Linked DNA regions of Homo sapiens: region 1 is linked to region 2. Evidence: fine-mapped expression QTL. A gene starts in region 2. The other region holds a variant in brackets. All regions are shown on one strand. Distances are between the middles of the regions.

Evidence for each region. PIP is the estimated chance that this variant, and not a neighbour inherited with it, causes the effect. A credible set is the group of variants that fine-mapping cannot tell apart.
Region 1: its variant is the best candidate, but not a certain one, in a credible set for the expression of FAR1 in whole blood (TOPMed, PIP 0.69).

What each region holds. Positions count from the first base shown.
Region 1 is chr11:13,622,871-13,627,259 of GRCh38, reverse strand. No RefSeq gene overlaps it. Among named protein-coding and RNA genes, the nearest start is that of FAR1, 44 kb to the left of the region's middle. The variant G/A (reference allele first, on the strand shown) is at 2,410.
Region 2 is chr11:13,666,341-13,670,729 of GRCh38, reverse strand. It overlaps FAR1 (fatty acyl-CoA reductase 1), which reads right to left and starts at 2,062. Exons shown (of 12, transcript NM_032228.6): 1 at 1,924-2,062. RefSeq lists an enhancer at 1,503-1,552 and silencers at 1,633-1,912, 2,023-2,512.

The DNA of each region.
Region 1 (4,389 bases), 43 kb after region 2:
CAGACAAGCAAATGCTGAGAGATTTTGTCACCACCAGGCCTGCCCTAAAAGAGCTCCTGAAGGAAGCACTAAACATGGAAAGGAAAAACCAGTACCAGCCACTGCAAAAACATGCCAAATTGTAAAGACCATCAAGGCGAGGAAGAAACTGCATCAACTAACGAGCAAAATAACCAGCTAACATCATAACGACAGGACCAAATTCACACATAAAAATATTAACTTTAAATGTAAATGGGCTAAATGCTCCAATTAAAAGGCACAGACTGGCAAATTGGATAAAGAGTCAAGACCCATCAGTGTGCTGTATTCAGGAGACCCATCTCACATGCAGAGACACATGTAGGCTCAAAATAAAGGGATGGAGGAAGATTTACCAAGCAAATGGAAAACAAAAAAAGGCAGGGGTTGCAATCCTAGTCTCTGATAAAACAGACTTTAAACCAACAAAGATCAAAAGAGACAAAGAAGGCCATCAGATAATGGTAAAGAGATCAATTCAACAAGAAGAGGTAACTATCCTAAATATATGTGCACCCAATACAGGAGCACCCAGATTCATAAAGCAAGTCCTTAGTGACCTACAAAGAGACTTAGACTCCCACACAATAATAATGGGAGACTTTAACACCCCACTGTCGACATCAGACAGATCAATGAGACAGAAAGTTAACAAGGATATCCAGGAATTGAACTCACCTCTGCACCAAGCAGACCTAATAGACATCTACAGAACTCTCCACTCCAAATCAACAGAATATACATTTTTTTCAGCACCACACCACACTTATTCCAAAATTGACCACATAGTTGGAAGTAAAGCACTCCTCAGCAAATGTAAAAGACAGAAATTATAACAAACTGTCTCTCAGACCACAGTGCAATCCAACTAGAACTCAGGATTAAGAAACTCACTCAAAACCGCTCAACTACATGGAAACTGAACAACCTGCTCCTGAATGACTACTGGGTACATAACGAAATGAAGGCAGACATAAAGATGTTCTTTGAAACCAATGAGAACAAAGACACAACATACCAGAATCTCTGGGACGCATTCAAAGCAGTGTGTAGAGGGAAATTTATAGCACTAAATGCCCACAAGAGAAAGCAGGAAAGATCCAAAATTGACACCCTAACATCACAATTAAAAGAACTAGAAAAGCAAGAGCAAACACATTCAAAAGCTAGCTGAAGGCAAGAAATAACTGAAATCAGAGCAGAACTGAAGGAAATAGAGACACAAAAAACCCTTCAAAAAATTAATGAATCCAGGAGCTAGTTTTTTGAAAAGATCAACAAAATTGATAGACCGCTAGCAAGACTAATAAAGAAGAAAAGAGAGAAGAAACAAATAGACGCAACAAAAAATGATAAAGGGTATATCACCACTGATCCCACAGAAATACAAACTACCATCAGAGAAAACTACAAACACCTCTACGCAAATTAACTAGAAAATCTAGAAGAAATGGATAAATTCCTCAACACATACACCCTCCCAAGACTAAACCAGGAAGAAGTTGAATCTCTGAATAGACCAATAACAGGATCTGAAATTGTGGCAATAATCAATAGCTTACCAACCAAAAAGAGTCCAGGACCAGATGGATTCACAGCCGAATTCTACCAGAGGTACAAGGAGGAGTTGGAACCATTCCTTCTGAAACTATTCCAATCAATAGAAAAAGAGGGAATCCTCCCTAACTCATTTTATGAGGCCAGCATCATCCTGATACCAAAGCCTGGCAGAGACACAACCAGAAAAGAGAATTTTAGACCAATATCCTTGATGAACATTGATGCAAAAATCCTCAATAAAATACTAGCAAACCTAATCCAGGAGCACATCAAAACACTTATCCACCATGATCAAGTGGGCTTCATCCCTGGGATGCAAGGCTAGTTTAACATATGCAAATCAATAAATGTAATCCATCATATAAACAGAATCAAAGACAAAAACCACATGATTATCTCAACAGATGCAGAAAAGGCCTTTGACAAAGAAAAAATTCAACAGTGCTTCATGCTAAAAACTCTCAATAAATTAGGTATTGATGGGACGTATCTCAAAATAATAACAGCTATCTATGACAAACCCACAGCCAATATCATACTGAATGGGCAAAAACTGGAAGCATTCCCTTTGAAAACTGGCACAAGACAGGGATGCCCTCTCTCACCACTCCTATTCAACATAGTGTTGGAAGTTCTGGCCAGGGCAATTAGGCAGGAGAAGGAAATAAAGGGTATTCAATTAGGAAAAGAGGAAGCCAAATTGTCCCTGTTTGCAGATGACATGATTGTATATCTAGAAAACCCCATTGTCTCAGCCCAAAATCTCCTTAAGCTGATAAGCAACTTCAGCAAAGTCTCAGGATACAAAATCAATGTGCAAAACTCACA[G/A]GCATTCTTATACACCAACAACAGACAAACAGAGAGCCAAATCATGAGTGAACGACCATTCACAATTGCTTCAACGAGAATAAAATACCTAGGAATCCAACTCACAAGGGATGTGAAGGACCTCTTCAAGGAGAACTACAATCCATTGCTCAATGATATAAAAGAGGATACAAACAAATGGAAGAACATTCCATGCTCATGGGTAGGAAGAATCAATATCGTGAAAATGGCCATACTGCTCAAGGTAATTTACAGATTCAATACCATCTCCATCAAGCTACCAATGACTTTCTTCACAGAATTGGAAAAAACTACTTTAGAGTTCATAAGGAACCAAAAAGGAGCACACATCACTAAGTCAGTCCTAAGCCAAAAGAACAAAGCTGGAGGCATCACACTACCTGACTTCAAACTATACTACAAGGCTACAGTAACCAAAACAGCATGGTACTGGTACCAAAACAGAGATATAGATCAACGGAACAGAACAGAGCTCTCAGAAATAATGCCGCATATCTAAAACCATCTGATCTTTGACAAACGTGAGAAAAACAAGCAATGGGGAAAGGATTCCCTATTTAATAAATGGTGCTGGGAAAACTGGCTAGCCATATGTAGAAAGCTTTAACTGGATCCCTTCCTTACACCTTATACAAAAATTAATTCAAGATGGATTAAAGACTTACATGTTAGACCTAAAACCATAAAAACCCTAGAAGAAAACCTAGGCAATACCATTCAGGACATAGGCATGGGCAAAGACTTCATGTCTAAAACACCAAAAGCAATGGCAACAAAAGCCAAAATTGACAAATGGGATCTAATTAAACTAAAGAGCTTCTGCACAGCCAAAGAAACTACCATCACAGTGAACAGGCAACTGACAAAATGGGAGAAAATTTTCGCAACCTACTCATCTGACAAAGGGCTAATATCCAGAATCTACAAAGAACTCAGACAAATTAACAAGAAAAAAACAAACAACCCCATCAAAAAGTGGGTGAAGGATATGAACAGACACTTCTCAAAGGAAGACATTTATGCAGCCAAAAAACACATGAAAAAATACTCATCATCACTGGCCATCAGAGAAATGCAAATCAAAACCACAATGAGATACCATCTCACACCAGTTAGAATGGCGATCATTAAAAAGTCAGGAAACAACAGGTGCTGGAGAGGATGTGGAGAAATAGGAACACTTTTACACTGTTGGTGGGACTGTAAACTAGTTCAACCATTGTGGAAGACAGTGTGGCGATTCCTCAGGGATCTAGAACTAGAAATACCATTTGACCCAGCCATCTCATTACTGGGTATATACCCAAAGGATTATAAATCATGCTGCTATAAAGACACATGCACACGTATGTTTATTACAGCACTATTCACAATAGCAAAGACTTGGAACCAACCCAAATGTCCAAAAATGATAGACTGGATTAAGAAAATGTGGCACATATATACCATGGAATACTATGCAACCATAAAAAATGATGAGTTCATGTCCTTTGTAGGGACATGGATGAAACTGGAAACCATCATTCTCAGCAAACTATTGCAAGGACAAAAAACCAAACACTGCATGTTCTCACTCATAGGTGGGAATTGAACAATGAGAACACTTGGACACAGGAAAGGGAACATCACACTCCGGGGACTGTTGTGGGGTGGGGGCAGGGGGAGGGATAGCATTAGGAGGTATACCTAATGCTAAATGATGAGTACATGGGTGCAGCACACCAACATGGCACATGTATACACATGTAACAAACCTGCACATTGTGCACATGTACCCTAAAACTTAAAGTTTAATAATAATAAAATAAAAAAAAGAGAAAAAAAAAGAAGGCAGAGGTTGCAGTGAGCTGAGGTCATGTCATTGTACTCCAGCCTGGGTGACAGTGAGACTGTCTCAAAAAAAAAAAAAAAAAAAAAAAGAAAGGATGAAAGAAAAAGAAAAAAAACACTTGAATTAAT
Region 2 (4,389 bases):
AAAAAAAAAAAAAAACCCTCAAGCTACTTAGCTACAAAATTCTTCACAAGGGTAATAAATTTCCCAACAAGCCTAATACATAATCAAACTCCAGAAAATTTATGTGGAATTTTTATGGATAAATTTATGGAATAATTTTGGCCGGCGCGGCAGCTAACGCCTGTAATCCCAGCACTTTGGGAGGCCGAGGCGGATGGATCTCTTGAAGTCAGGGGTTCGAGACCAGCCTGGCCAATATGGTGAAACCCCGCCTCTACTAAAAATACAAAAATTAGCCGGTGCGGTGGGGCATGTCTCTGTAGTCCCAACTACTCGAGAGGCTGAGGCAAGAGCTGATCACTTGAACCTGGGAGGTGGAGGTTGCAGCGAGCCAAGATCGCGTCACTGCACTCCAGCCTGGGCAACAAAGCGAGACACACACACACAAATTTATAAAATAAAAACAAAACAAAACAAAAATTATAAAATAATTTTATGGAAAATGTATGGAATAACAGGGCCTGGGTGGGGTGGCTCACCCCTGTAATCCCAAGCCTTTGAGAGGCCACGGTGGAAAGATCTCTTGGGCCGAGGAGTTTGAGGCTGGAACGAGCTATGATCTCGCCACTGCACTCCAGCCTGGGCGACAGCAAACCCTGTCTCTGTTTACTTTTTAAATTAATTTGAAAAAAATACATCAGGATTGTACTTATACGTTAATTCTCACTTGTATTACTGTAAGAGATCTTGCATCATTTTTATGCTATATTACACATGCCCAACATGACAGCTGAGAAACTCCCCTGGAGGGCAGATTTTCTGAGAGTATCTTCTGATGTTGTCTTTAAACCAACACTTTTTTTTTTAACATAAAGAATTAAGGGATTCCTGACTGCCATCTAGTCAAAAGCAAACAATATGTATGCCATTACTTCGGAGGGAGTGAGTTCTTGTGCTGCTGAGGCAAAACGAGATGAACTGTCACAGGGATGGCAGGAGGGGTGGAGTGTAGGAGGAGGATCAGCCCCAGTAGTGAGAATTAAAAACTCTTTTGAGTATTTGGCCCTCCACTAGCAGTAAATTAACCTTCAAACCTGACCAAGACACTACCTGAGACCCTCCACTCTCCGACACCGCAGAATCAGACAACTGTTCTTGCTCAACTACTCATAAAAGATTCACAGCCTTCACCTACCACACATAAATCTACCGCGTTTGCTGCTTGTATACTTTGTCCTAACAGACCAACTAATGCCTTCTAGTCCAATAGCCTCCCGTCCACACCTCACATAAAACCTTCTCAGCCACCTTCCGGTTTCAGTAGGTGCCTCTTACTCCAGATCCACGTGTCCCCAGTTCTCCAGAGACCTTCACCTTCAAAACCCAAGCCCGTCCCCCCTTCACTCCCAGCTGATCTCCACCCAGGCCCTATCAATCCTTACTTCTAATAGGCCAACCACACTCCCCGGCCCCGCGCCTTCTCCCTCAGCACCCTTTTCTGAGCATCACCTATTTCCCACCACTTTCTTCCTCCCCAGACCCGGAATCCTGCAATCACTAGGCCTCCCTTTGCCGCTACCCTCCCGCGAGCACGCGGAGCCCGCTGCTCGGCTAACCACCCCGCCCCACCTTCGCCACCTCTAGCGGCCTCCCACCCCAGGCGGCTCCCCGGGCTCCGCGGCTGCAAACCAGGCCCCACCGTACGTCCCCCACGCGGTCCCGGCCCTGTGAAGGGCGGCGGCGGGGCAAAGAGGGGCAGAGACCACCCGGGGTGAGGCGGGCGCCCTCACTTCTGGGCGTACCCGGGCGGGGGCGGGGGCGGGACGGCTGGTCGGCGCCCCCGCCTCGGCCAGGCCTGCAGCCCGAGCTCCCGCAACCACTTCCCGAGCCAGGCGAGGAGGAGCCCGCAGCCCGGCCGCTCCCGCTGGCGCACCCCCTTCTCACCTAGACGCAGAGGCTCAGGCCTCGCTCTCCCACTGGCCGTCCAGCAATAGCTGCGCCGCCGCCGCCGCCGCCGTCGCGCTCTCTTCACTCGCTTTTCCACCGCCCGCGACCGGCTGCTGAAGAGCGGACGGGCAGTGGCACGCCCATTGGCTGAGGCCCGCAGTCGCGTCAGCCGGCCCCGACCGCACCTCGCGACGTGACTGGCTGGAGCGGCGCCTCTTTTCGACATCCGCTTTTGATTGGCTCTCGCGCACACCCTTATCCGCAGGACCAGTCATCCTCCTCCCTGCTTTAGCCTCTCACCCCCAACCCGGTTTCCCTCCGGGCGGGAGTGGGGCGGGAGCGGACGCCCGCGGAACGCGAACGGCCAATGGGGGCGCGGAGAGAGGGCCGGGAGGTGGGCCCTGCGGCCGGGAGGCTCGCGGGGGAATGCTCAGCCAATGGGCCCGCGCCCCACATCTCGAGTCCTGGAGCGCCCCCGCCGGCTGCTGGCGTCCTGTCGGGTCGCGCCCAGGGCCACGCCCGGCTGTCCGTCGCGCGGGAGGGGCGCCAACTCCCAAGGTTGGGAGCACGCAGCGAGGCCCGCGCGGGAGACAGCGGGGCTGCCATTGTGGCGTGCTTAGCGCTATTATGGTGGGGCCCGGGGGCCCTCCGGCCATTGCTGGGCGTGAGGGATCCGTTCGGAGAACTACCAGCTTGGCGGGTGTGGCCCGGGTCGGTGAGAGCGAAGAGCTCTACGGACCCCTGGAGCCTCCACGGGTCTCGCCCAGTCCCAGGGGACTGTGGGCCCATTCATTCCACCTTCCACTTCCTCCAAAATAATTCCCTACAAAACTTACCGGTAGTGATAGGAGTTAGAATAACGTTTACTTCTGAGGGGTGGGGCACGAGGGAACCTATGGAAAGCTGGAAACATTGCGTCTTGATCCTGGTGGTCGTTCCGGGCTGTGTACACATGGAGGAATTCATCGAGCCGGACACTTAATAGTATTACCACATTCATACGGCTCATTTTTAAAAAATAATAAAAGGATCATGAGAATTCTGTAATAATATTACCACAATCTTTGGGCTCCGTGGGACTCCATTGTATAAACAGTCCGCATTAGGATTTAGCTGTCATTCAAAACATGCAAGCCATAGGAAGAAAAAAAAAGATTTGTGAGAAGCAAAAATGAGTGAACGCTCTTGGCACGGTGAATAGCATGCACAGGTTGGTATTTAGGGATGGATGGCTCAGAGTGATTTTTCTGTGGGGATTTAGAGCTTGTTTCAGTGCCTGGCCCTGTTAGTAGCTAAAAGCAGTCATAGTGCTGCATCCAGTTGGAAACTACAAAAGCTCACTGAACTGCCTACTTTGTGGCAGATGTTAAGTTCTGGCTCAGGAAACTAATTTGAATGCCATGGCTTCTGCCTCGATGAGCTCACAGTCTTGCAGCAAGTACTGTCATTTCTGGAGGAGGGCACAGAACACAAAGCTAACACACTTGCTTACCCTCAGGGATGTCGCATTCCGCTACTTTAGGCAAGACAGTGTATGCCTGGAACCCATCCAGTCCAATAGCCATAGTCATAAATAGCCAGGATCAGGTGAAACACTTCTTAGAAGTGGGTCAAAATATTCTCCCAAAACAAACGTAAGAACTATGGACCAAATTCTAATCTGTAAAAGAACACAAGCAACAAAACAAAGATTACAGTATTCATATTTATTAATTTAGTCATTAAGTTGTTTAAATCAGGTAAATGCCTTTATTTAAAGTGCTTGTCACTACACTAGGCATATAAACTTGGATATGACAGTATTCCACAGAACATAGGGTTTAATGGAGAGACAGACATAAACAATGCCAGTGTAATACAGGATGAGGGAATACCTAGAAAGAGGATGTAACCCAGCATGGGGGATTCAGGAGCATGTTAGAACATGTGTAGCTAAGTTAACCACTGCTAAGGTTTATCAGTATACTGATAGGGTAATATCACTATAGGAAATAGACACTATTTCCAGAAAATACTTCATAAACTTTTTGTTGTTTGTGCATATGTCTTAATTTTAAAAATTGATATAAGTACAAAAGCAAAGTAATGCTTAGTTCTGAGGAAAATATGATGTAATTATTAAGTAATCACTTAATAAATGATTCTCAAAAATAGCCGTACACTTGAGAGCACAAAGGGATCTCATTTGATTCAAGTCAATGTGTATGAAATGTGTGCCTCCGGCAGACCCCCACAAATGGACAGAGTGCTTTCTGGAGGAAGACTTTAAAAAACAATGGATCACTCTCCAAGATGGTACAATTTCATGGGTAAGGCATGTTGTATGACTCGAATCTTCCATAATATACTATCATTCTTAAATGAATTCAGAGAATTAATAAATCTACAAAAAGTGAGTAATAAAAGGCAGTGAAAGATTTTGCACCAGAGTTTAAACTAGAAAAATGTAATGACATCAATCAT